Regions from separate parts of the Homo sapiens genome. Here region 2 is linked to region 1. The links come from fine-mapping of genetic effects on gene expression. A gene starts in region 1. The other region holds a variant in brackets. All regions are shown on one strand. Distances are from middle to middle. Region 1 holds the start of FBXO21 (F-box protein 21). Region 2 overlaps NOS1 (nitric oxide synthase 1).

Region 1 (17,168 bases):
AATAGGGCCTCCAAACAGCGTAAGCTCCGGGCTCCACTAAACCCAGATCTGCCCCTGCGGGAGGGTGAATCTAGTAATCATGGCCATGTATGCATTCCTACAGTTTGTGAGTGTGTACTGAATGAAAGGCATAGGGTTCTGAGAAGGCACAAGGCAGAAGGAGCTTGCCTAGCCTGGGTTCATGGACTTGTGTTCCTACAGAGGAGCACTTGAGCAGAAATCTGAAAGATGAGTAGGTGTGGCTGAGGAGGCACTCCTGGGAAAAGGAACCGTATCAGCAAAGGCCCTCAGGTGGGCAGAGAAGTGGACCAGAAAAGAAAGGATGTAAGTACTAATTATGAGGACAAGGAACACTGTAGGGACTAAGGGAAACTTCCCCTTTGCCCTCAGAAGTTTCACTGAAAAATCAACTCACAAAAGGCAGATTAATAAGAGAAAAGGCCTTTGGGAGGCCAAGGCAGGAGGATTGCTTGAAGCCAGGTATTCAAAACCAGCCTGGGCAACAGTGCAAGCTCCCATCTCTATAAAAATTTTTTTTTAAATAGCCAGGCATAGGCCAGGCGCGATGGCTCACGCCTGTAATCCCAGCATTTTGGGAGGCCGAAGCAGCTGGATCACCTGAGGTCAGGAGTTCAAGATCAGCCTGGCCAACATGGTGAAACCCCGTCTCTACTAAAAATACAAAAAAATTAGCTGGGTGTGGTGGCAGACATCTGTAATCCCAGCTACTCAGGAGGCTGAGGCAGGAGGATTGCTTGAACCCAAGAGGTGGAGGTTGCAGTGAGCCAAGATCACACCACTGCACTCCAGTCTGGGCAACAAGAGCGAAACTCTATCTCAAAAAATAAAATAGCCAGGCATGGTGGCACACACGTGTAGTCCCAGTTACTTGGGAGGCTGAGCCAGGAGGATGGCTTCATCCCAGAAGTTCAAGGCTGCAGTGAGCTATTACTGCTCTACTGCACTCCAGTCTGGTCAACAGAGCAAGACCCTGTCTCCAAAACAAAAAGAGAGAGAAAGAGAGAATGGGCATACAAATTTATGAACATGCACACGGAAGAGGCCCACCAAAAGATTACTCACCTCCCCGCTGCCATGGAGTTTGGAAACTTATTAACATCTTAAAATTACAGAAAGAATGGGAGCTTGGATCTTGGCAAAACAGGTGTGGACAGTGTTGAGGGTAGTTGAAATGGTATCTGCGGCTAGATTGTGGAGATTTCACTGGAGAGGGGTGTTGACCTCGCCAGCCAAAAATAACGAGAAATTCATCTGTAGTCCAACAAAGATAAGTTTTTACCTTGCTGCAGCAAGGGAGAGGCCACCCTAGAGGACCACTGGGAAGCCAGGGAGGAGGGATCCCAGAGGGACTTATTCTAGGATTTGAGTTTGTGCAGGGTGATTTTAGCAGGGACTGTGGGATAGAGCAGGAACTCCCAAGCATGGAAATGAAGAAAAATTTTGAGTTCCTTCAAGGGAAATTCCAGGCACCTCGCTAGTAATTCCAGGCACCTTGCTGAGAAGTAAATGAGTGACTTGATAAGCAAGAAGGTAATAGTAGCTCAAAACACTAGCAAGAAAGTTAGAATCATGGGATGTCTGGTTCGCTTACAGAAACTAAGGATAGTGTCTTAACACACGTCTGTGGGTTGTTTTTCAGGATCCCAGACCCCCACCAAACAGACCCACTGGCCGTAGACCTCACATAAAGAGAAACTGAGGACCGAACCCTGACCACTGTTTTTTGTTCTAAATTTCTTCCTGTGGGGTCTAGAGGAGATCACGGCTACCAGCCAGAGCTAACATTCTTTACTGCAAATCTCAATTTTTTTAGACAAAGCTTCACCTCCTTAACCAAATACAAGTCAAAAAATCTTTGAATCCAGGGCCCTGCACAGTGGCTAACGCCTGTAATCCCAGCACTTTGGGAGGCCAAAGCGGGCGGCTCACAAGGTCAAGAGATCGAGACCATCTTGACCAACATGGTGAAACCCCGTCTCTACTAAAAATGCAAAAAATTAGCTGGGTGTGGTGGCGTGCGCCTGTAGTCCCAGCTACAGAGACTGAGGCAGGAGAATCACTTGAACCCAGGAGGCAGAGGTAGAAGTGAGCTGAAATCGTGCCACTGCACTCCAGCCTGGCGACAGAGTGAGACTGTGTCTCAAAAAAACAAAAAACAAAAAACACAACAACAAAAAACCTTTGAATCTACCTATGACCTGTGGGCCTCTGCTTCCAAATGTCCCGCCTTTTTAGGTCAAACCAATGGATAGCCTCCATGTAATTGATTTATGGCTTTGCCTGTAACCTCTGCCTCCTTGCCTTTAAAAACTCTTACCTGTGGGCAGGCACGGTGGCTCACGCCTGTAATTCCAGCACTTTGGGAGGCCGAGGCAGGTGGATCACCTGAGGTCAGGAGTTCAACACCAGCCTGGTCAACATCATGAAACCCTGCCTCTACTAAAAATACAAAAATTAGCCAGGTGTGGTGGTGCATGCCTGTAATCCCAGCTACTCAGGAGGCTGAGAAGCAAGAGAATCGCTTGAACCTGGGAGGCAGAGGTTGTTACAGTGAGCTGAGATAGTGCCATTGCACTCCAGCCTGAGCAACAGAGCAAGACTCCGTCTCAAACAAACAAACTAAAAAACTCTTACCTGTAAGCCATCAGGGAGTTTGAGTCTTAAACCATGAGCTCCCCAATTCTCCTTGATTGGGGCCCTGCAATAAATGCCTCACTTTCCCTCACTGCAATCCCAATGTCAGTGTTTGGCTTTGCTGTGCAGGCCAAGAGGACCCCAATTAGGTTCAATTAGGGTTGAGGGGACCAGCTGGATATAGTCAGGGCGTGAGGCCAGTTCAGCAAAAGGGTATCCTAGGGGAAATTTAAAAACAGAGTTTTCCCTATGCCAAAAAGGAAAGAGACTCATTCCCTTCTTCCTTTCTTGGAGAATTTCCTTGAGAAAATTTGTGTTTGTAATTATATCTTCTGTCCCTTTGATAGGTATGTAAATCTTTTGTGTGTGCGCCATTCTTTCATACAATCCCACCGGGCCCTGGACACTCTCACCAACATCCCATACTTCCTTCTCCCCTTCTGTACATTTCATGGACCCCAGGGTAGGAGGGGCTGGGTGAGGGTTCGGGATCCCCCTCCTGCCATCCTAACTAAGCATCTGGGGTACCAGCCCTGCTGCCAAGTGATCTTGTCCCTAGCCCTCTCTCCCCAGGCTGGCATGAGTGTGTGTTTGTGCCAAGCTTCTATTTCATATTGCAAATATAAATCAAGGAAAACAATTTAAGTTAAAATGAAAGAAAAAGAAGGCTGGGCGCCATGGCTCACACCCGTAATTCCAGCACTTTGGGAAGCCGAGGCGGGAGTTCAGGAATTGGAGACCAGCCTGCACAACATGGTGAAACCCCATCTCTACAAAAAAAAAATGCAAAAATTAGTCGGGCTTGGTGGTGTGTGCCTGCAGCCCCAGCTACTCAGGAGCCTAAGGTGGGAGGCTGGCTTGAGTCCAGGAGGCAGAAGTTGCTGTGAGCCGAGATGACGCCACTGTACTCTAACCTGGATGACAGAGTGAAACTCTCTCTCAAAAAAAAAAAAAAAAAAAAGAGGCCGGGCGCGGTGACTCATGCCTGTAATCCCAGCACTTTGGGAGGCTGAGGTGGGCGAATCACCTGAGGTCGGGAATTCGAGACCAGCCTGACCAACATGGAGAAATCCCATCTCTACTAAAAACACAAAATTAGCCAGGTGTGGTGGTGTATGCCTGTTATCCCAGCTACTTGGGAGGCTGAGGCAGGAGAATCACTTGAACCCCGGGAGGCGGAGGTTGCAGTGAGCCAAGATCCGGCCATTGCACTCCAGCCTGGGCAACAGGAGCGAAACTCCATCTCAAAAAATAATAAAGAAAAAAGAAAGAAACAAAGAAAAGAGAGAGAGGAAGGAAGGAAGGGAAAGAAAGAAAGAAAAAAGAAGGAAAGAAAGAAAGAAAGAAAAAAGAAGGAAAGAAAGAAAGAAAGAAAGAAAGAAAGAAAGAAAGAAAGAAAGAAAGAAAGAAAGAAAAAAAGCCAGCCAGGCATGGTGGCTCACGTCTGTAATCTCGGCACTTTGGGAGGCCGAAGTGGGTGGATCACCTGAGGTCAGGAGTTCAAGACCAGCCTGGCCAACATGGTGAAACCCCATCTCTACTAAAAATACAAAATTAGCTGGATGTGGTGGCACATGTCTGCAATTCCAGCTACTTGGAGGGCTGAGGCAGGAGAATCTCTTGAACCCGGGAGGTGAAGGTTGCAGTGAGCAGAGATCATGCCACTTCACTCCAGCCTGGGTGACAGGAGCAAAACTCTGTCTCAAAAAAAAAAAAAAGAAAAAAAAGAAAAGAAAAGAAAAAAGAAAGAAGAAGGAAAGAGAGAGAGAGACGACAGAAAGAAAGAAGAAAATAAAAAGAAAGAGAAAAGAAAAAGGAGACTGCCACTGTCCACATTCTCCATATTCTTCCTCTGTTTTATCTCTTTCTTCCCAGTACTTATCACTGCCTAAGGATAGCACTGATGAGTCCTGATAGTATTGGCGGTATCCGCTGTCACCTATGCTAATATCTCGGCTCTGTGACCAGGGCATTTGTGACTTTACCCTGTTCACCTTTGTACCCACATTGCCAAAAACAGAGCAGTCACTAAATTTGGGTTTATTTGTTACACAGCAATACTAACTGATGTATATGTCTTATTTAATAGCAAGATAGATTTTTATCCCTGTTTTATAGATTAGGAAACTGAGGCTTACAGAAATTAACCTCTGTTGGGCATTTGGTTATGGATGGTGAGGGAGAAAGAGGTAGCAAGGATGGTGACAAGTTCATGTTTTACAGGAATGGATGAATGAGTAGCCCTTCCTAAGGCAGGAACTACTAAGAGAAGACAAGGTAAAGTGGAGAAGAAAGATCATGAGTTTCCTCCTGGATAAGTTGAGTTTGAAGGGCCCAAAGGGAATGGCAGGTGAGCAGGCTAAGCCAGACTAGATCCCAGAGGAGCGGGTGGGGCAGAAGAGAGAAATGTGGATATTTCGATTGGATCTGGATCATCATTCGAGTTGTGGACAGAGGCAAGATAGTGAAAGAAGAGGGCTGGCTGAGGCCCAAGATACCTCAACATGTAACATCTGAGTGGCTGCAAAGAAGATGGAGAAGGTGCAGCCCCAGAGGTGAGAGGAGAACCGGGAGACAGTGGAGTCACAAAGGCTTTGTCTTGTCTTGCTCTGTCACCCAGGCTGGAGTGCAATGGTGTAGTCATAGTTCACTGCAACCTTGAACACCTAGGCTCAAGTGATCCTCCCACCTCAGCCTCCCGAGTAACTGGAACTACAGGTTTAAGCCGCCATGCTGGTAAAATTTAATCATTTTAAAGAGAACAATTCAGTGGCATTTAGTATATTCCCAATGCTGTGCAACCACCACCACCACCTCTATCTACTTCCAAAACATTTCCATCACCCCAAAGTAAATCCATATCCAGGCCAGGCACGATGGCTCACACCTGTAATCCCAGCACCTTGGGAGGCCGAGGCAGGTAGATCATGAGGTCAGGAGTTCAAGACCAGCCTGGCCAACGTGGTGAAACTGTCTCTACAAAAATACAAAAATTAGCCAGGCATGGTGGCATGCTCCTGTAATCCCAGCTACTCGGGAGGCTGAGGCGGAAGAATCTCTTGAACCCAGGAGGCCAAAGTTGCAGGGAGCCGAGATCGTGCCATTGCACTCCAGCGTGGGCAACAGAGTGAGACTCTGCCTCAAAAAACAAACAAACAAACCAAAAAACCCATATCCATTGAGCCATTTCTCCCTGCTTCCCACACAGTTTTGTCAAGCAATTTTTTTTTCGTTTCGTTTTTTCTGAGACAGCATCTTGTTCTGTCACCCAGGCTGGAGTGCAAAGGCATGATCTCGGCTCACTGCAACCTCCACCTCCCTGGTTCAAGCGATTCTTCTGCCTCAATCTCGCAAGTAGCTGGGATTACAGGCACCTGGCATCATGCCCGGCTAGTTTTTGCATTTTTGTAGAGATGGGGTTTCACCATGTTGGTCAGGCTGGTCTCGAACTCCTGACCTCAGGTGATCTGCCTGCCTTGGCCTCCCAAGGTGCTGGGATTACAGGTGTGAGCTACCGCATCCGGCTCAAGGATTTTTTCTATACCAGCCACTGTTCTATGCCCCTCACATGAATTTCCTCATTTAATTCTCATGACAGCCCCAGGAGACAGGCATTATTATTATTAATTATTATTCCCATTTTACAGATAAAAAACTGGGCCTCAGAAAGGCTAAGTAACTTCCCTAGTCAAACAGCTGGTTAGACTATCGCAATCAATAGATAATTGAGAATCTGCTCTGTGCAGGGCATGGGTCAAGTAACTAGGCTTCTAGAGGTGACTCAGACACAGTCCTAGCACTGAACTCCCTTCAGATTTAGTGGGAAAGATGCATGTTGAATAGTTGTAAGTTAAGTAATTACAAGACTGCAAAATGCTGGGCAGGAGCCATATCTGGTGCTGGTGCTGGGGCGGGGGAAGGGAGAGCATTTGGAAAGGTTAAGCTGAGCCCTGGAGGAAGAGGAGGAGCTACTGGAAGGGGAGGACTGCATGAAGTGCCTTGCAGGCAGCAGGAATAGTATATGTAGGGCCAGAAATGGGAGGAAAGAGATGACCAGCCTTGCTGGGGTATGCATGGCTAGTGAGAGAGAAAGACTTCAGATAGGTAAGAAGAGGTGGAGTTTGTTGCTTTGCAACAATGTTTGGGATGTCACATTCATTTCTACGGGAAATAGGGAGCCACAGATGGCTCAACGCCATCCATTGAGAGTCACTTTACTAGTTCAGCTCTCTCAGGGCATCTTGATTTCCAAGTTGCCAGGAGTACTTCATTGGACCCTCCATGTACTGACAACAGATCCTTCTAACTGTAATTGCACTTTGAGGTTTTGAAGCAAAGACTCCATTTTTCTCACCCCTGTATCCCCAGGGCACACAACACAGGGCTTTGGCACTGAACTAAACTGATTTTTTTTTTTTAATGTGCAGATCCTGAGACTACCCTCCCAATCCTGAGTGATAACTCCCGCTTTGAAGACTCAAATCCAGGCTTTAGCACTTTTGTCTCTGTAACTTTGAACCAGTGACTGCCACCTGGAAGAACTTTGCCTTTTCTGTAGAATAGGTATAACTGTGGTACCTATTGTGGGAGGTCAGACTATGCTCCCCAAATATGAAGGATTGTTGAGCTGGAAACAATTAAGAAACCAGTACAGGAGAGCTCTCTGCCTGCCCTCTATTAGCCTAAAATCAGGGCACACATTTGAGGATTATTATTACTCCCCTACACCATCATAGAGGGCTTCCCATAGCACCCACTCAAGAATATTGTTATTATTACATCATATGGTTAAGATTACTGACAAGCAAAAGTCAAGTGGATCTGAAATAGAATCCAAGACAAGGGGCTGGGCGCGGTGGCTCACGCCTGTAATCCCAGCACTTTGGGAGGCCGAGGTGGGTGGATCATTTGAGGTCAGGAGTTCGAGACCAGCCTGACCAACATGGTGAAACCCTGTCTCTACTAAAAATACAAAAATTAGCTGGCTGTGGTGGCGGGCGCCTGTAATCCCAGCTACTCGGGAGGCTGACGCAGGATAATTGCTTGAACCAGGGAGGTGGAAGTTGCAGTGAGCCGAGATCACGGCCACTGCACTCCAACCTGGGTGGTGGCGCGCGCCTGTAATCCCATCCGCACGGGAGGCTGAGGCAGGAGAATCGCTTGAACCCAGGAGGCAGAGGTTGCAGTGAGCCGAGATAGCGCCACTGCCCTCCAGCCTGGGTGAGAGCAAGACTCCTTCCCAAAGGGGGAAAAAAAATCCAAGACAAGGGATCCTGAGCAAGCCCTCTCACTCTCCGAACCTGTTTCCCCATCTGTAATATGGGGAGAAAGTTCGCAGGGTAATTCGGAAAGGTCCAATGCGCACAGAAAGCGCTCAGCACGCGTGAGAATAGATACCATTTTTATTTGTTAATTTTAAACATTAATTACGTTTAAAAGAATCAGTGCTACTATTGTTGTCCCGGACTAGAGGCGGCTTGCGCTGCCGGCTCCAAGCACAGAGCCCAATTATGTCCTCCCTTTTGCGGCGCTGCCACCCGCGCAGCCCCCAGCCGATGCAGGGGAGGTGTGGCCCGCGGATGGGCGGAGCGATCTCAGGACTCGCCCCCAAGACCAGTAGGCGGGGCCAGGCGGGGCGCCCGGGCACTCTCGCACGCGCGCGCGCGGCGGCCCCAGGTACGCGGACAAGATGGCGGCGGCAGCAGTCGACAGCGCGATGGAGGTGGTGCCGGCGCTGGCGGAGGAGGCCGCGCCGGAGGTAGCGGGCCTCAGCTGCCTCGTCAACCTGCCGGGTGAGGTGCTGGAGTACATCCTGTGCTGCGGCTCGCTGACGGCCGCCGACATCGGCCGTGTCTCCAGCACCTGCCGGCGGCTGCGCGAGCTGTGCCAGAGCAGCGGGAAGGTGTGGAAGGAGCAGTTCCGGGTGAGGTGAGCCAGCGGCCCCGCGCCCCGGCTGCGCGCCCACCGCCCCGCGCCCCCCGGGGCCGGGCAGCCGCCCCGCTAGCTCCCCGCGGCCGCCCCGCGCGCGGACCCCACCCCGGACCCCTTCCCGCGGACAGACAGACAAAGGCCTCCAGGCCCCGGACCCTGCGGGGCCACGCCAGGCGGACCCCCGGGTCCCCAAATGGCGCATCTAGGAGCGCCTCGCAGCCGGGTCCTCCGTCAAGGGTGACGCTGGCGGCGGCGCGGCTCGTCCCTTTTGCGCGCTTCTTTTGTGCCCGACTTCGGGCTGAAATGTTTACATGGACCCAGTGATGCATCGATCGGGCGGGCGCAGCATCCCCGGGCTGGTTGTGGACGGCACAGATTTCAGCGTGGCCCCAGGATGAAATCTGGCCCTGCACACTCCCTCTGTGACCTTGGGGGGAGCGACTTCCCTTTTTTTGAGCCTCGTTCATAGACTTTGAGTGGTGGTGATCATTAGACCTACCTTTCACCGTGTTTATTAAATTAGATGATGTCCGGGAGGCACGCACGCAGGGCCCCGGCTCCTAGGAGGCGCTCAATCAGTGCTCACTGTCATTGTCATTATTATTATTGTTGTTGTTGTTACAACTGTCCCCATTTTAGAGATGGGGAATGGAGACATCATTCATGCCGCTACGCCAAGGTCACACCGGGAGTGAGTGAGTGAATGCTGGTGGGGTTTTGAACTAGGTCTCTCGCCGGGGTCCCTCTTACCACTGGACGCCACTGCTGTCCCTGTTTCCAAGGCTGCCTTGGATTCGTGGCCGCCTGCCTTTGAGTTTCTGTTAAGCTGAGGGGGTGTTTCTCTCCTCGTAGGTGGCCTTCCCTTATGAAACACTACAGCCCCACCGACTACGTCAATTGGTTGGAAGAGTATAAAGTTCGGCAAAAAGCTGGGTTAGAAGCGCGGAAGATTGTAGCCTCGTTCTCAAAGAGGTTCTTTTCAGAGCACGTAAGGATCTGTTGATGTGGCTCTAAGCTTTGGCTTGCTGGTGTATGTGTCTGGGTCTGCAGGCATGAGCTCATCCAGCTCTTTTCGTATCTCCCTTTTCAATGCTCTCACAATCCCTTACTCACTTAGATGGCTGCAAGAGTCATTGTGTCCTTTTCCTCCTATCCAACAACACGAAGCCATTTGTCTGTGCCAGCTTTACTTTTCTAAAGCCAGAGAGAGAGTGGGGGTGGAGGGAGCAGGGAGGGACCCACGCAGCACAATGTAGACGGAGTCCAGATCAGCATTATTTCTCAAATGGGTTCAACGGATTTTTTTTGCAACCCCTCCGTTATTTGGGGAATCATCAATGATTGAACACTGTAAATTTCTCCCGGTTGTTTTCCCAGAAGGGTTGACGAAATTAATGTGGTTCTTCTCTCTGGCTTTGCAGGTTCTACCCAGTAGTGAACTGCATTATTTGTTAAGGTAACAGAGGATTAAAAGCTACCTATAAATCAGAGTTATTACTCCCTGAAATGAATTGTCTTGCATTCATTATCCCTGAAAAGTTTTTGGGTTTTTTTTTTTTTTTAAGTATTGCAGAAATACATGGTGGGTTTTTTTTGTTTTGTTTTGTTTTGTTTTCTTTTTTTCTTTCCTCAAAATGTCTCATGGAAGTTTCTTTCTTTTTTCTTTTTTTGAGACAGAGTCTTGCTTTGTCTCCCCGGCTGGAGTGCAGTGGCGCAATCTCAGCTCACTGCAACCTCCTACTCCTGGGCTCGAGCAATTCTCATGTCTCAGCCTCCCGAGTAGCCGGGACTACAGGCATGCGCCACCATACCTGGATAATTTTTGTATTTTTAGTAGAGTTGGGGTTTCACCATGTTGGTCAGGCTGGTCTTGAACACCTGGTCTCAAGTGATCCGCCGGCCTCTGCAAACCAAAGTGTTGGGATTACAGGCGTGAGCCACCGTGCCTGGCCTCACGGAAGTTTCTGTATCTGCCCCTGATCCCTTTTTGTAACTCTGGAAAATAATCCACACTAATGTTTTGAGTTCAACAAACTATTCGATATTTATTTCTGGTTGGGGTTCTAGAAATAGAGCCAATCTGATTTATTTCACTTTTTTGTTTTCCTAAAGACTCCTTTGGATTCTCTAATTTTAATTACTGTTAGTTAATGGAGTTAATAATTTGAAATGTTTTCAAGGCTTTTCAAGTTTTGAAAGGGAAAATTTGAACTTTGGACAAATTTGAATGTTTTCCCCTATGGAGAATACAAATAGACATTCCTTAGTGTAATTGGTTTCTATAAATATTTATTAGTGTTAGAATAAACAAAATTTGTATTTTACTTTGGAGAAGCCATGCCCTGGCTAAAAGCATTCATAATCACAAATTGTAAATGCTGATCTGAATGTGTTTGCACATACGTAGATTTTGGTACTAGCTATGTTTGGTGCAGTTGGTCATGGACTATGAGCCTGCAACCTCCATTTCTAGTCCAGCTGGTTTTGTGTATGTTTTGAACAGTCTGTGCCTCTGTGTAATAATGATGGATTGTTGTGTTTTTTCCTCAGCTCCCCCTTTTCCTGTACCACTGCTTAATTAGAAGTATGTCAAGGACTTTGAACACAGCGGGAGCATACTTAACATTAATCTGTGGGTGGGTGATTGCTTTGGCCCGGGATCTTGGCGTTCCTGTGTTCTCAGAATGCACACAGGTTGACCTGAAATGTTCTGGCTACTTGCAAAAAGAAAACTGAGAGAAGCCATAGAATTTTAAACTCAGAAGATCTTTTTTTTTTTTTTTTTTTTTTTTTTGAGACAGAGTTTCACTCTTGTTGCCCAGGCTGGAGTGCAATGGTGTGATCTCAGCTTACCGCAACCTCTGCCTCCCAGGTTCAAGTGATTCTCCTGCCTCAGCCTCCCGAGTAGCTGGGATTACTGGCATGCGCCACTACGCCTGGCTAATTTTGTATTTTTAGTAGAGATGGGGTTTCTCTATGTTGGTCAGGCTGGTCTCGAGCTCCTGACCTCAGGTGATCCGCCCACCTCAGCCTCCCGAAGTGCTGGGATTACAGGCGTGAGCCACTGCACCTGCCGCCGCCGCCTTTTTATTTTTTTTAAAACGGAGTTTCATTCTTGTTGCCCAGGCTGGAGTGCAATGGCGCAATCTTGGCTCACTGTAACCTCCGCCTCCCGGGTTCAAGTGATTCTCCTGCCTCAGCCTCCCAAGTAGCTGGGATTACAGGCATGCCTGGCTAATTTTGTATTTTTAGTAGACATGGGGTTTCACCACGTTGATCAGGCTGGTCTCAAACTCCTTACCTCAGGTTATCTGCCTGCCTTGGCCTCCCAAAGTTCTGGGATTACAGTCATGAACCACTATGGCCGGCCAGAGCTAGTTTTCTTTACGTTAGAACTGTGAGTTGTCAGTTTCAGAAATTCCAGTCTATGAAAACATCATTGATTACAAACAACAACAAAACCTCAGTAAATTATTGTTACTTTATGTTATTTTCTACCCATGACTGGTAGTGCAAGGTAGTGTAGAATAACTGTTAGCACTGTCTTTAGTAGTGGACATCTTTATTTCAGCTCAAATTTGTGAGAGTGAGAGTTGCATCAATACTCATAATTGAGGCCTACTTGTATATGTCTTCTTCATAGGTTCCTTGTAATGGCTTCAGTGACATTGAGAACCTTGAAGGACCAGAGATTTTTTTTGAGGATGAACTGGTGTGTATCCTAAATATGGAAGGAAGGTAAGCCATAGCTTTAGCAGGGATTTGTTTGCTTTAATAAGTCCAGAGTAAATTGCTGTAATTTCTGTGTGGCTAAACCCTGGAATATGTGATTCCAAATATTTCACGCCTTGTCATAGTTACAGTTTTGAAAAGTTCTGTGTATATTAGGTAGATACACCAAGACAATTGACATATAAAGAAACCTTACAAAAATCCTTTTGGAAAGAAAATGGAATTAATGTTTAGCACTACTATGGGTCAAATACTGTGCCCCAGACCCTTGTATCTGTTGTGTTGTTTAGAAACCTTTTGGTAATAGGCCAGGCACGGTGGCTCACGCCTGTAATCCCAGCACTTTGGGAGGCCGAGATGGGCGGATCACCTGAAGTCAGGAGTTCGCGACCAGCCTGGCCAACGTGGTGAAACCCCATCTCTACTTAAAAAAATACAAAAAATTAGCTGGGTGTGGTGGTACACACCTGTAATCCCAGCTACTCGGGAGGCTGAGGCAGAAGAATCATTTGAACCCGGGAGGTGGAGGTTGCAGTGAGCCGAGATTGCACCATTGCACTCCAGACTGGGGGACAAGAGCAAGACTTCGTCTCATAAAAAAAAGAAACCTTCTGGTAATATAAATCATCCTTCCTTCATTATTACCTCTCCACTTACTATCAGATTTGCCTATCATGAATTGAATCTTTTAATTTAAAAATAATAATTTCTTAGGCATGTCTTAATTTAATGGATGATTTTTTACAATTTCTGAATTGCGGTACAAAATAATCTACTTTGTTCTTTGAACACTGTAGATCTTTGGGTGAGCCTTTCTTTTATCTTCCAGTCAGAAAACTGCGTACTTAGGGACTCACTTGATCAAGAAGAACCCCTTATGTCTTGGTTATTGCTTAAAATTTCATATACCTTTTATTTTCTGCTGTGAAGGTTAATTTCCAGTTTTTCCCTGAAAGATGAGTGGGCTTCCAGCCTAACTTTCCTGTGGAAAAGACTTTCTGTTCTAAAAGTTCTGAAAACTTTCTAGTGATGGAAGATAAGAATGTTAGTTTAACATCTTCCTTAAAAGGAATCTTTGCGAAATATCTCACAAACAAGGCATGAAATATTTATGTTGTTTTTTAAAGGGGATTTAGGAGAGAGAAATATCTATCAGTGGAACAACTGTGGGTAGAGGTAAGATGTGTCACTATTCTAGGCCTTGGATGAGTTCAGATGCAGAGGTCATTTTTCCATTTCTATTTTGGTTTATCTATAAATGAATTGAAGTATGATCTAGTAGTCAGTATTGTGCAGTCTTAAAAATAAAAGCTGACTTGTGTTTTTTAATGTGCATATGTACTTTAAAATACATAAATGGGACCTCATACCTACTTTGTTGGTTGTTTTGGTTTGGTGTTTAGTACAGACCTGGTTTTTCTCTTATTTATGCTGTTTCCTTTTTCCTCCCCATTCCCTCTGTTTACATTGTCCTTTCCTGCCCCCACCTCTGTAATTCTTGATAACAGCCCAGGTTGCATTCTTCTTGCTGACAGTGATGAGTATGGGAAGGGATCATTATTGCACAAAATTGGGATCACATAATAGGTACTTTTCTATATTGTTTTTTCTCATTCAACAGTACCTTATGGAAATCCATCCTCTTCAACGGGTAAAACATCAAAATCACTATTGTTAATGTCTACTTACTCTTTTGTGGTATGTTACATAATTTATTTACTTATTTTTATTTTTTTGAGATGGAATTTCGCTCTTGTAGCCCAGGCTGGAGTGCAATGGCGTGATCTTGGCAACCTCTGCCTCCTGGGTCCAAGAGATTGTCCTGCTTCAGCCTCCTGAGTAGCTGGGATTACAGGTGCCCACCACCACACCCAGCTAATTTTGTATTTTTAGTAGAAACGGTGTTTCTCCCTCTTGGTCAGGCTGGTCTCAAACTCCTGATGTCACGTGATCTGCTGGTCTCGGCTTCCCAGAGTGCTGAGATTATGGGCGTGAGCCACCGTGCCTAGCCTACATAATTTTCCTATAGATGGACAACCACTTTTTTTTCCATTTTGTGTCACTGTGAGGAGTGATGTTTCTAGGCAGTAGAGTCCTGGGAATGGGTTTCCCAGTTCAGACTATAGGATGTTATTGAAAGACATAAAATAGATAGCATGTCCTGGAATGTGAAGACTTGCTATCACAAAAAATGTCAGTTCTCCCCAAATTAATTTATAAACCTAGTGTCATTCCAATTAGGATTCAAACAAAGTATTTTTGTTGGGGGTGGTGAGCAGGGGGGAGTTGTTTTGCTTTTTTCTTTTCTTTCATTTGGATGTCATAAAATATATACAGAAGACTAAATTCACAAGAAGAGCCAGAAAACAATTTTTCAGTAATCATAATGGGAAACTGGCATCACTAGATATTAGGCCATCTTATAAAGCTACTTATAATCCAAACAGCACAGTGATTCAATAAAAATAGCTGCATCAGTAGCAGAGGATAATTGACAAATGCATCCCAGAATAAAAGATAATTTAATATATTTAAACTCAGAGGGAAAAAATGGATTTTTAAAGAAATGGTACTGGACATAACTGAATATCCAGCTGGAAGAAAGGAAAACGTGCATCATATGCAAACATTTTTCCAAAGGATGAAACAACTGAAATTTTTAAATGATCACAGTGAACATTCCTCAAGAAAATAGGAGACTTTGTATAGTCTAAGGGAGACCACCTTAACCAAGAAGGACAATGCGGAGACAGTGAAAGAGCAGACACTTCTATATGGCCAAGAGAGCATGAACGAAGTCAGTAGAACTCAAGAGATATTGAAAAATGTTCAAAGGTTAGGAGGATGACATTCACAGAAGAACAAATCCTAACATCTAACAATCACGGAAAACTTTTAATACACTATTCAAAAAGTGTTAAATAGGCCGGGTGCAGTGGCTCACGCCTGTAATCCCAGCACTTTGGGAGGCCAAGTCCTTGGATCATCTGAGGTCAGGAGTTCGACACCAGCCTGGCCAACATGATGAAACCCTGTCTCTACAAAAAATACAAAAATTAGCCAGACATGGTGGCAGGTGCCTGTAATCCCAGCTACTGGGGAGGCTGAGGCAGGATAATTGCTTGAACCTGGGAGGCGTGGGAGGCAGAGGTTGCAGTGAGCCGAGATCGCGCCATTGCATTCCAGCCTGGGTGACAAGAGTGAAACTCCGTCTCAAAAAAAAAAAAGTGTTAAACAGCAATGAGATACTGCCATTTTACATATCAGGTTCCCAAAAAAGATGAAAATGCATAGCTAGTAAAGACATATATTATAGTGTTTTTAGAAATAAATACGAATAGGTTACCCAACACACATATTTTGACCTTAAAAAAGGATTGTTTGTTTTAGAAACAGAGTCTCACTCTTGTCACCCAGGGTGGAATGCTGTGACGCAATCATAGCTCACTGCAGACTCAAACCCCTGGGCTCAAGTGACCCTCCTGCCTCAGCCTCCCGAGTAGTTAGGACTACAGGCACTTGCCACCACACCTGGCTAATTTTTTCTATTTTTTGTATAGATGGAGTCTTGCTTTGTTGCCCAGGCAGTTACTAAACTCCTGGCCTCAAGAGATCTTCCCAGCCAGGCATGGTGGCTCACGCCTGTAATCACAGCATTTTGAGAGGCCGAGGCGGGTTGATCACTTGAGGTCAGGAGTTCAAGACCAGCCTGTCCAACATGGTAAAACCCTGCCTCTACTAAAAATACAAAAATTAGCTGGGCATGGTGGCACACGCCTGTAATCCCGGCTACTCGGGAGGCTGAGACAGGAGAATTGCTTGAACCTGGGAGGCTGAGGTTGCAGTAAGCTGAGATTGCACCACTGCACTCCAGCCTGGGCGACAGACTCGGTCCAAAAAAAAAAAAAAAAAAAAAAAGATCCTCTTGCTGTGGCCTCCCAATGTGCTGGGATTACAGGTGTGAGCCACCACGCCCAGCCCTGTTTGTTTTTTTGAGACAGGGTTTCATCCTGTTGCCCAGGCTGGAGTACAGTGGTGCAATCATGGCTCACTGTAACCTTGAATCCTGTGTTCAGGGGATCCTCTGGCCTCAGCCTCCTGAGTAGCTAGGAATACAGGCATGTACCATCATGCCTGGCTAATTTTTATTTGGTAGAGACAGTGTCTCACTATGTTTCCCAGGCTGGTCTTGAACTCTTGACTTCAAGTGATCCTCCCACCTTGGCCTTCCAAAGTACTAGGACTATAAGTGTGAGCCAACAAACAAATAAGGTTGTTTTTAAATGATAGAATACCCCGCATTTAAAAATATTTTGGGATACCAGTTTTCATGGAAGACCCTGTTTGTTTTCATTCCTGGCAAATGCTTATGGTTTGGATATGGAAAGCATGGGAAGGAAAAAGTGTAGTTTCCATAAATGCCAAAGTATCAGCTTGAAATCAGTTTGTGTTTATGATGTGCTATGTGGTCTTAAAAACGAGTATGTCCTACAATAAAGATTAGAAACAGCATATTAAAAGGGCATACACTGGGCCAGGCACAGTGGCTCACACCTGTAATCCCATGACTTTGGGAGGCTGAGGTGGGCAGATCACCTGAGGTCAGGAGTTCGAGACCAGCCTGGCCAACATGGAGAAACGCCGTCTCTACTGAAAATACAAAAAATTAGCCGGGCATGGTGGCAGGCACCTGTAATCCCAGCTACTCAAGAGGCTGAAACAAGAGAATCGCTTGAACCTGGGAAGTGGAGGTTGCAGTGAGCTGACATTATGCCGCTGCACTCCAGCCTGGGTGGCAAAGTGAGACTCTGTCTCAGATAGATAGATAGCTAGATTAGATAGATAGATAG
Region 2 (8,000 bases), 70 kb before region 1:
AGGAGGATCCCTTGAGCTAGGGAGGTCAAGGCTGCAGTGAGCTATGATCACACCACTGCACTCCTGCCTGGGCAGCAGAGTGAGACCCCTGTCTCTTAAGAGAGAGAAAGAGGGATGAAATGAGAGTGAGTAGTCAGGGGTCACAAGAACAGAGTTTGAGAGGGACTGGGGGCCAAGGGGAAAGAGCTAGCAGGACACTGCCAAGGCCAGACCACCCACTGGGCAAGGACCCCCCCCCTCCCCCCAACCCCGCATCCCTTCCCCCATGGTGGTCACCACTGGGCAGAATTCTTCCCTTCAGAGGCCGAGGGTCAGGCAGTCACAAGTCCCAGGTGGTCCTGAGCATCCCCAACAGGAACCAGATGCCCTCACTGCAGTGAGTGACCATAGCCCTCTCCTTCTCTTCCCAGCCTGATCCCTGGAACACGCATGTCTGGAAAGGCACCAACGGGACCCCCACAAAGCGGCGAGCCATTGGCTTCAAGAAGCTAGCAGAGTAAGTTTCGTGCAGTGGGCGGGTGGGGTGGATGTCCCCACAAACTCAGAGAACCCAGAGAAGGAGGCTGGGCAGACTCCTGTGCCCTCTGACCTCTCTACAGAATATGATTTCTTCATCTTCTTCAGCCACCTGGGCCTTCTTTGCCTCTGAGTCTGAGCTGTGAATGTCGTTCCAACTCTTCTCCTTCTCAGCCTCACTTTCCTCACACTGGTTTCCTAAATTCTTGTCCTGGGGGCAATGGTGTGTTGGTGAACCAGCCCTCCTAATAATAATAATAATAATAATAATAATAATAATAATAATAATAATAGTAATACCTTGATTTTCATGTTTGCCAGTTTCCATGATGTAAACATTCCCACTATGACCAATTTCTTTTCTTTCTTTCTTTCTTTTTTGAGATAGGGTCTGTTCCCCAGGCTGGAGGCGTCTCACTTTGTTGCACAGGCTAGTCTCGAACACCTGGCCTCAAGCGATCCTCCTGCCTCAGCCTCCCAAAGTGCTAGGATTACAGGTGTGAGCCACTACACCTGGCCTAGGAAGTCACTGAACCCAGACTAGGGAGGAGCTGGAGTTAGTCAGCTCCAGCACACTACTGCCTGGAGAGCACCCTCGTTCAGGGCTGACCCTTAATTTTACTCATTCATTCATTTACTCATTCATTCATTCATTAGTTGGGTGTCGCAGCACACGCCTGTAGTTCTAGCTACTCAGATTCTGTGCCAGGCACTGTGTGAGGCTTCAGGGGGATCATGGCAAGCTAGACAAATGCTGTCCCTGCTGTCATGAAGCTCACAGCCATTCCTTTGTCAAAGAATCAACAAATACAGTAAACATGGCAGCTGTGGAAGGTACCATCGAGGAATGGTTCCTGGAAATAATAATGGTTCACGGAGTTTGGGAGGTCAGGGAGGGCTTCCTGGAGGAGGTGACAATTGAGCTAAAGAATGAGATTAAGAAAGTTTAAGCAAAGAGGGGAAGGAAGGGGGTTATGGCCTGAGACTACTGAGGAGTGATTTTCCTGAAGAATGCCTGACCAGCCAGAGGACCAGCTGACAAGTAGGATGGGGTTAACTAAGTTGATTTAACGGGGATGCCAGCCTTCTGCCCCAAAAAAAAGAGAACCCCACTGATCCACTTACCAAAGACCACTGTTTGGAGCTAACTTTTTGTCAGAAGACACTACTCTGTTTCCTCAGCTCCCTCAGGTCCAGAATTCTCTATGTATGATAACTAGTTGTACAACAGGTGTCATCTAAGCCATGGGCCCCAGAGACAAGACACTGGTGGGTCTTGCAGGGACCCAAACCTAGGTCCTGGCTCCATTAATAGAGCCCATAGAATCAATCAATCTCTCTCTCTCTCTCTCTCCTCTCTCTTCTCTCTCTCTCTCTCTCCCCCTCCCCCTTTCTCTCCCTCCCTCCCTCTCCTCTCTCTGTCTCTCTCTCTCTCTCTCTCCCTCCCTCCCTCCCTCTCTCTCCTTCCACCCTAATCCCATCCCCCAGCCAAGCAAGAACACATCAGCAGCCACCATTTCCCTAACAAGAATATCTCAGATATTCTCAGGGAGGGCAATTGTTGGCTTCAGTTCAGCTCCACTGTCTCTGGGGGGAAAGGGGAGGGAGAAATCTAAAACATTAATTACACTATTAAGTTTTGGGTAGTAACAATGGGAATTAATTATAGATGCATCTTTATGCTCAAATTATTCAAAGGGAACCCTCCAGGTACCTTTTATTCCTTTCTGTTTCTTCCCCTTAGCTAAGTCTTCCTGCATCGTGGGCGGTTTCCCTGATTCTAAAAAATAATGAACTTAACGCCGATAATCCCAGGTGGGGGGAAGTTAGCGATTTGTCTGCACTGAGATTTCTAGTTACAACAGGGAGGCTTGTTAAGGAGTCGAGCCTGGGTATTTCTGAGCCTCTGGCCTGTCTGCTAGTGCCCCTGGAACTCGCCCTGCCCAGTAGAGCAGAAGGAAGAGACACTGGTTTGGGCTTCTCTGTTTAGTTAGAAAGAGGCTGGATTTGATGTTCAGACTTCCCAGGGTCTCAGTGGCAGCATCTTTTAAAATTCATAACTTCTTTTATTTCTTTTTTGTAGAGACAAAGTCTCACTCTGTTGACCAAGCTGGTTTCAAACCCTTGGCCTCAAGTGATCCTCCCGCCTCAGCCTCCCAAAGTGCCAGGATCACAGGCATGAGCCACTATGCCCATCCCATAACTTCTTTTGATAGATATTTATTTAGTGCCTGTTGGGTATCAGGCTCTGTGCAAGACCCTTGACATGCATTGCTGAATAAATCAGACCTGGTCCTTCCCTTGTGGACCAATAAACCTCTAAATCCCATCAAACTCAATGCCTGGTGACTAATTCGTGATTCATTTCTCTCTCTCTTTCTCTCATTCACACATGTGCATACACACACACATTAGAATATGAGCCCTATGACAGCTGCATTCCATAGCTATGTTCTCTGTGGTCTCCATTTCCTATAACAATACTGACACATAGTTAAGCACTTAATAAATATTTGATGAATGAAAGAGAGAGGAAATGGATGAACGATCATCTTTTGAGGCAATGCTTGGCAAACCAAGGTTCTTAAGCCTGGGATCAATCAAGTAACAAGCTAACAAAACTAACTACTCCTTTTAATTCATGACTAATTGCTCTGGTGGGATTTTTTTTTTTTTTTTTTTTTTTTTTTGAGGCAGAGTCTCACTCTGTCGCCCAGGCTGGAGTGCAGTGGTGCCCAGTGGTGCGATCTCGGCTCACTGCAACCTCCACCTCCTGGGTTCAAGCAATTCTCTTGCCTTAGCCTCCCAAGTAGCTGGGACTACAGGCGCACGCTGCCACTCCCGGCTAATTTTTTTGTATTTTAGTAGAGACGGAGTTTCACCTTGTTGCCCAGGCTGGTGGCAAATTCCTGAGCTCAGGCAATCCA[C/T]CTGCCTCGGCCTCCCAAAGTGCTGGGATTATAAGCATGAGCTACCACACCCGGCCTCTGGTGGGATTTAATAAAGGATTTAATATCCAGCATTATCTCTAGAGAAGTTAAAAAATAAAATAAAATAAAGGATTTAATAATACTTTAATAATACGGTGCTTAAACACAAAGACTTCAAGTGCCTCTGAGGAAACCCCTGAAGCCATCAAAGATCAAGAGAGTTCTCTTCTGTTATATTTCATGGATCCTGGTTCTTGCACGAAAGTCCCAATCCAGCATCTTCTCTCCCCTTTTCTGTTGCCCATTTTTCATCTCCATCCTCTTCCCTCCAGAGCTGTCAAGTTCTCGGCCAAGCTGATGGGGCAGGCTATGGCCAAGAGGGTGAAAGCGACCATCCTCTATGCCACAGAGACAGGCAAATCGCAAGCTTATGCCAAGACCTTGTGTGAGATCTTCAAACACGCCTTTGATGCCAAGGTAGGTGGGGGGTAGCCCTAGCTCCACCAGCTTCTCATGGTGAATTAAGGCAGGAAGGGGAGAGAGGGAAGTCAACAGAGAAGAAGCCTTTGGCAAAGGATGAAAGCACACCTGACAGGGCCTATCAGCTCACATACACATTTGCATAAATTTCAGGGGACTGTGATATCCCTGTCCCCATGAGTCCAGGAGTCACAAAATGAAATTCCCCTCTTTAGAGCAAAATGTTAGAGGGTTTATAAGAAACCATTCTGAGGTCAGTTTGGGAAGCTTTGCCTGAAGTACAGCTCGATGGTTTTTTGGTTTTGTTTTTTTGTTTTTTTGTTTTTTGTTTTTTTTTTTTTTTGAGAAGGAGTTTCACTCTGTCACCCAGGCTGGAGTGCAGTGGCGCGATCTCGGCTCACTGCAAGCTCCACCTCCCGGGTTCACGCCATTCTTCTGCCTCAGCCTCCCGAGTAGCTGGGACTGCAGGCGCCCACCACCACGTTCGGCTAATTTTTTGTGTTTTTAGTAGAGACGGGGCTTCACTGTGTTAGCCAGGATGGTCTCGATCTCCTGACCTCTTGATTCGCCCGCCTCGGCCTCCCAAAGTGCTGGGATTACAGGCGTGAGCCACCGCACCCGGCCAGCTCGATGGTTTTCATTGCTGTGGCAGGACTTCCCAGAGCCTGTAATCTATAAGCATGTGTTCTAATCTCCAAAAGAGGCGAGGATAGAATATAGACGTTTCCCAAACATGTTTGATCGTGGATCGCTTGTTTTCATGGAGCATCTCAGGAGACTGGGATTTTCTAGAACCTATTTTGAGAAATGTTGCTCAGACGATGATGAGACACAGGGCAATCATCTTTCCAGAAGGCAGATATCTCAGACTTGTTTGGCCAGGTGCTCCACACTGCTCGGGGGAGGATTAGAGAGGAGGTTGAGAAGACTTAGTCAGCTCTAGCCAGATCATTCCCGGCCTAACTGGGGTCAGGAAGAATCCAAGACCAATTGACTATAAGAATCCCATGGGATTCCATCAAGCTGTGTTTCTAGTATCTGCCAATCCCTTGAACCATTGCTTCAGATTCTCCACAACCCTTCAGGCCACAGTGACCATAGCAAGGTCCCACGCTACCAAAAAGCGTTTAGTTCTACCCACTTGAGCCCACTGAAGTACTAACACCTCAGATCTTTTGGTTCTCCTTCCAAAGGAGATGACCCAAAATGACTCACATTTTTCCTTTCTCTCCTCTTGCCCTTCCCCCATCACTTTTTGTCTCTCCCACCTCTTTTCTCTCCTCATCCCCTTCTTCCTCTCCCCATCCTATACCTGTGCCCTGCCCACCTAGGTGATGTCCATGGAAGAATATGACATTGTGCACCTGGAACATGAAACTCTGGTCCTTGTGGTCACCAGCACCTTTGGCAATGGAGATCCCCCTGAGAATGGGGAGGTGAGATGAGCTTTTACCTGTTCAAGAGTGTGGTTCCATCATCAGGAAGAAGTAGGGGCCAAGGTTGAGACTCTTCCTACACCTGCTATTCAGTAGCAAACCCTCCCAGAGCCTGAAAGCCAGTAATTTCCATTTGGATCCAAGTTATACAAAGGTTGGACAATTCCAAGTACTCAGTCTACTGGCGTCCATTAGTTAGCAAGTCCCTGGTGAAAATATTGTCACCTAAGTGAGCTATTTGTTTGCAGTGGCTGCTCCTATCATTAGCTTGATGTTCCCTGATGTAGATGAGGAACATGGGGACAATATTTTTATAGAAGGAAGGCTCCAACGGGAAGTTGTGTGCTGGGGGTAGGGAGTCCACACCTGTAGTCATTTAAACAGCAGGTGTATCCACTGCGTCTGTAGCCCAGGCATTACTGTCCAGCCTGAGCCCCTGACCGCTCCTGACATCCTGGCCTCCGGGCATCAGTCTCCTCTTTGACAGCCAGGACCCCAGACCCTCAGTATCCGACCTGATTTCCCATTTACTAAGATGTGCTAATTTCACCCATATGTTTTGGCTTCCAGAAATTCGGCTGTGCTTTGATGGAAATGAGGCACCCCAACTCTGTGCAGGAAGAAAGGAAGTAAGTGAATGACCCCTCCGACGTCACCCGCCACCCCCGAGGGTAACTGGACATTGACTTTTGGCACCTGGGGTTCACATTTGAGTTCTGGATGGTGGCTGTAATCTGAAGTCCATTTGTAATGGGTCTTAGTTGTGAGGTGTCTGCAGTCTACTGGGGCAAATATTTTGGTATCTGGGTCACTTCACAGCCTTGTGCCTCAGTTTCCTTTTCTATCAAATAGAGATTATAGCACCTACCTTGACTTTCTAATTAGTAAGAATCAAATCACAAACTAGATGTAAAAGCACTGTGTGCTGGGCGTGGTGGCTCACGCCTGTAATCCCGGCACTTTGGGAGGCCGAGGCAGATGGATCACAAGGTCAGGAGTTCGAGACCAGCCTGGCCAACATGGTGAAACCCCATCTCTACTAATAATACAAAAATTAGGCGGGCGTGGTGGCGCATGTATGTAATCCCAGCTACTCGGGAGGCTGAGGCGGGAGAATCGCTTGAACCTGGGAGGAGGAGGTTGCAGTGAGCCAAGATCGCACCATTGCACTCCAGCCTGGGCAACAAGAGCAAAACTCCATCTCAAAAAAAAAAAAAAAAAAGCACTGTGTAAATATTATTCTTTTTCCCTCTTTGAGAACCTACATTCAAAATCAGTGCAAGGCAGTCAGGCATGGTAGTGCACACCTATAGTCTCAGCTACTCTGGAGGCTGAGCCAGAAGGATCACTTGGCCCCAGGAATTTGAGGCCAGCCTGAACAGCCAGACCTGTCAAAAAAAAAAAAAAAAAAAAAAAAAGCTAAAATCAAAGAATGGAACTTCTTTCCTTAAAAGCTTCCTGTCTGATGCTCACAGTGAAGTTGCAGCTAATCTAGAAGTTGAGTTCAAAAGATAAGATACCTTGTAAGACAAAACATACCTGTAGTCAAAAATATGTTTGTAATGGAACCGCATCTAATGTGGGATTGAGTTCTAAAGGTATTTGGTAAAGTAAAAAAGCATCTAATCAAACTTACCATTGATGGCTGGGCACGGTGGCTCATGCCTATAATCCTAGTGCTTTGGGAGGCTGAGGCAGGAGGATTGCTTGAGGCCAGGAGTTCAAACCAGCCTGGGCAATATAGCAAGATCCCATCTCTACAAAAAAATTAAAAATTAGCTGGGCATGGTAGTGTGCACCTGAAGTCCCAGCTACTCCAGAGGCTGAGGCAGGAGGATCACTTGAGCTCAGGGGCTTGAGGCTACAGTGAGCCATAATTATACCACGGCACCCCAGCCTAGACAACAGAGCAAGACCCTGTCTCTAAAAAATAAAAATAAAAAAATTTTTTTTGAGATGAAGTTTCGCTGTTATCACCAAGGCTGGAGTGCAATGGCACGATCTCAGCTCACTGCAACCTCCGCCTCCTGGGTTCAAGCGACTCTGCAGCCTCAGCCTCCCGAGTAGGTGGGATTACAGGCACACACCACCATGCCTGGCTAATTTTTGTATTTTTAGTAGAGACAGGCTTTCACCATGTTTGCCAGGCTGGTCTCGAACTCCTGACCTCAGGTGATCTGCCTGCCTCAGCCTCCCAAAGTGCTGGGATTACAGGCCTGAGCCACCGCACCATGACAAAAAAATTTTTGTTAATGACCCTTGAAAAGCCCTTGCATCCCCCATAAGGTATAGGACACATGGTGTGTGCACGCTGAGCTGCCTTTCCATGAGGCCAACTCAGTATTTGCTCCAGCATGGAGCAAGCAGATCCCTGTGTCTTAAGGTGAACATCAAATGCTCTAGCTGGCTGGTGTTTTTTGGCTGTGTTAAGCAGAAAATCCCTTCTGAGGCCAGACACAGTGGCTCATGCCTGTAATCCCAGCATTTTGGGAGGCTGAGGCGAGAGGATCACCTAAGGTCAGGAGTTCGAGACCAGCCTGGCCAACATGGTGAAACCCGTCTCTACTAAAAACATAAAAATTAGCTGGCCATGGTGGAGTGCACCTGTAATCCCAGCTACTCAGGAGGCTGAGGCAGGAGA

What was found.
Region 2: its variant is fine-mapped to the expression of FBXO21 in whole blood (TOPMed, PIP 0.99).

Annotation. Positions count from the first base shown.
Region 1 is chr12:117,181,633-117,198,800 of GRCh38, reverse strand. FBXO21 (F-box protein 21) reads left to right here and starts at 8,331. Exons shown (of 12, transcript NM_015002.3): 1 at 8,331-8,583; 2 at 9,439-9,574; 3 at 12,230-12,324. The coding sequence starts at 8,345. RefSeq lists silencers at 8,115-8,174, 8,215-8,314, 8,595-8,644 and an enhancer at 9,115-9,204.
Region 2 is chr12:117,256,385-117,264,384 of GRCh38, reverse strand. NOS1 (nitric oxide synthase 1) reads left to right here. Exons shown (of 29, transcript NM_000620.5): 13 at 411-496; 14 at 3,776-3,920; 15 at 5,255-5,359; 16 at 5,930-5,988. Among named protein-coding and RNA genes, the nearest start is that of FBXO21, 70 kb to the right of the region's middle. The variant C/T (reference allele first, on the strand shown) is at 3,444.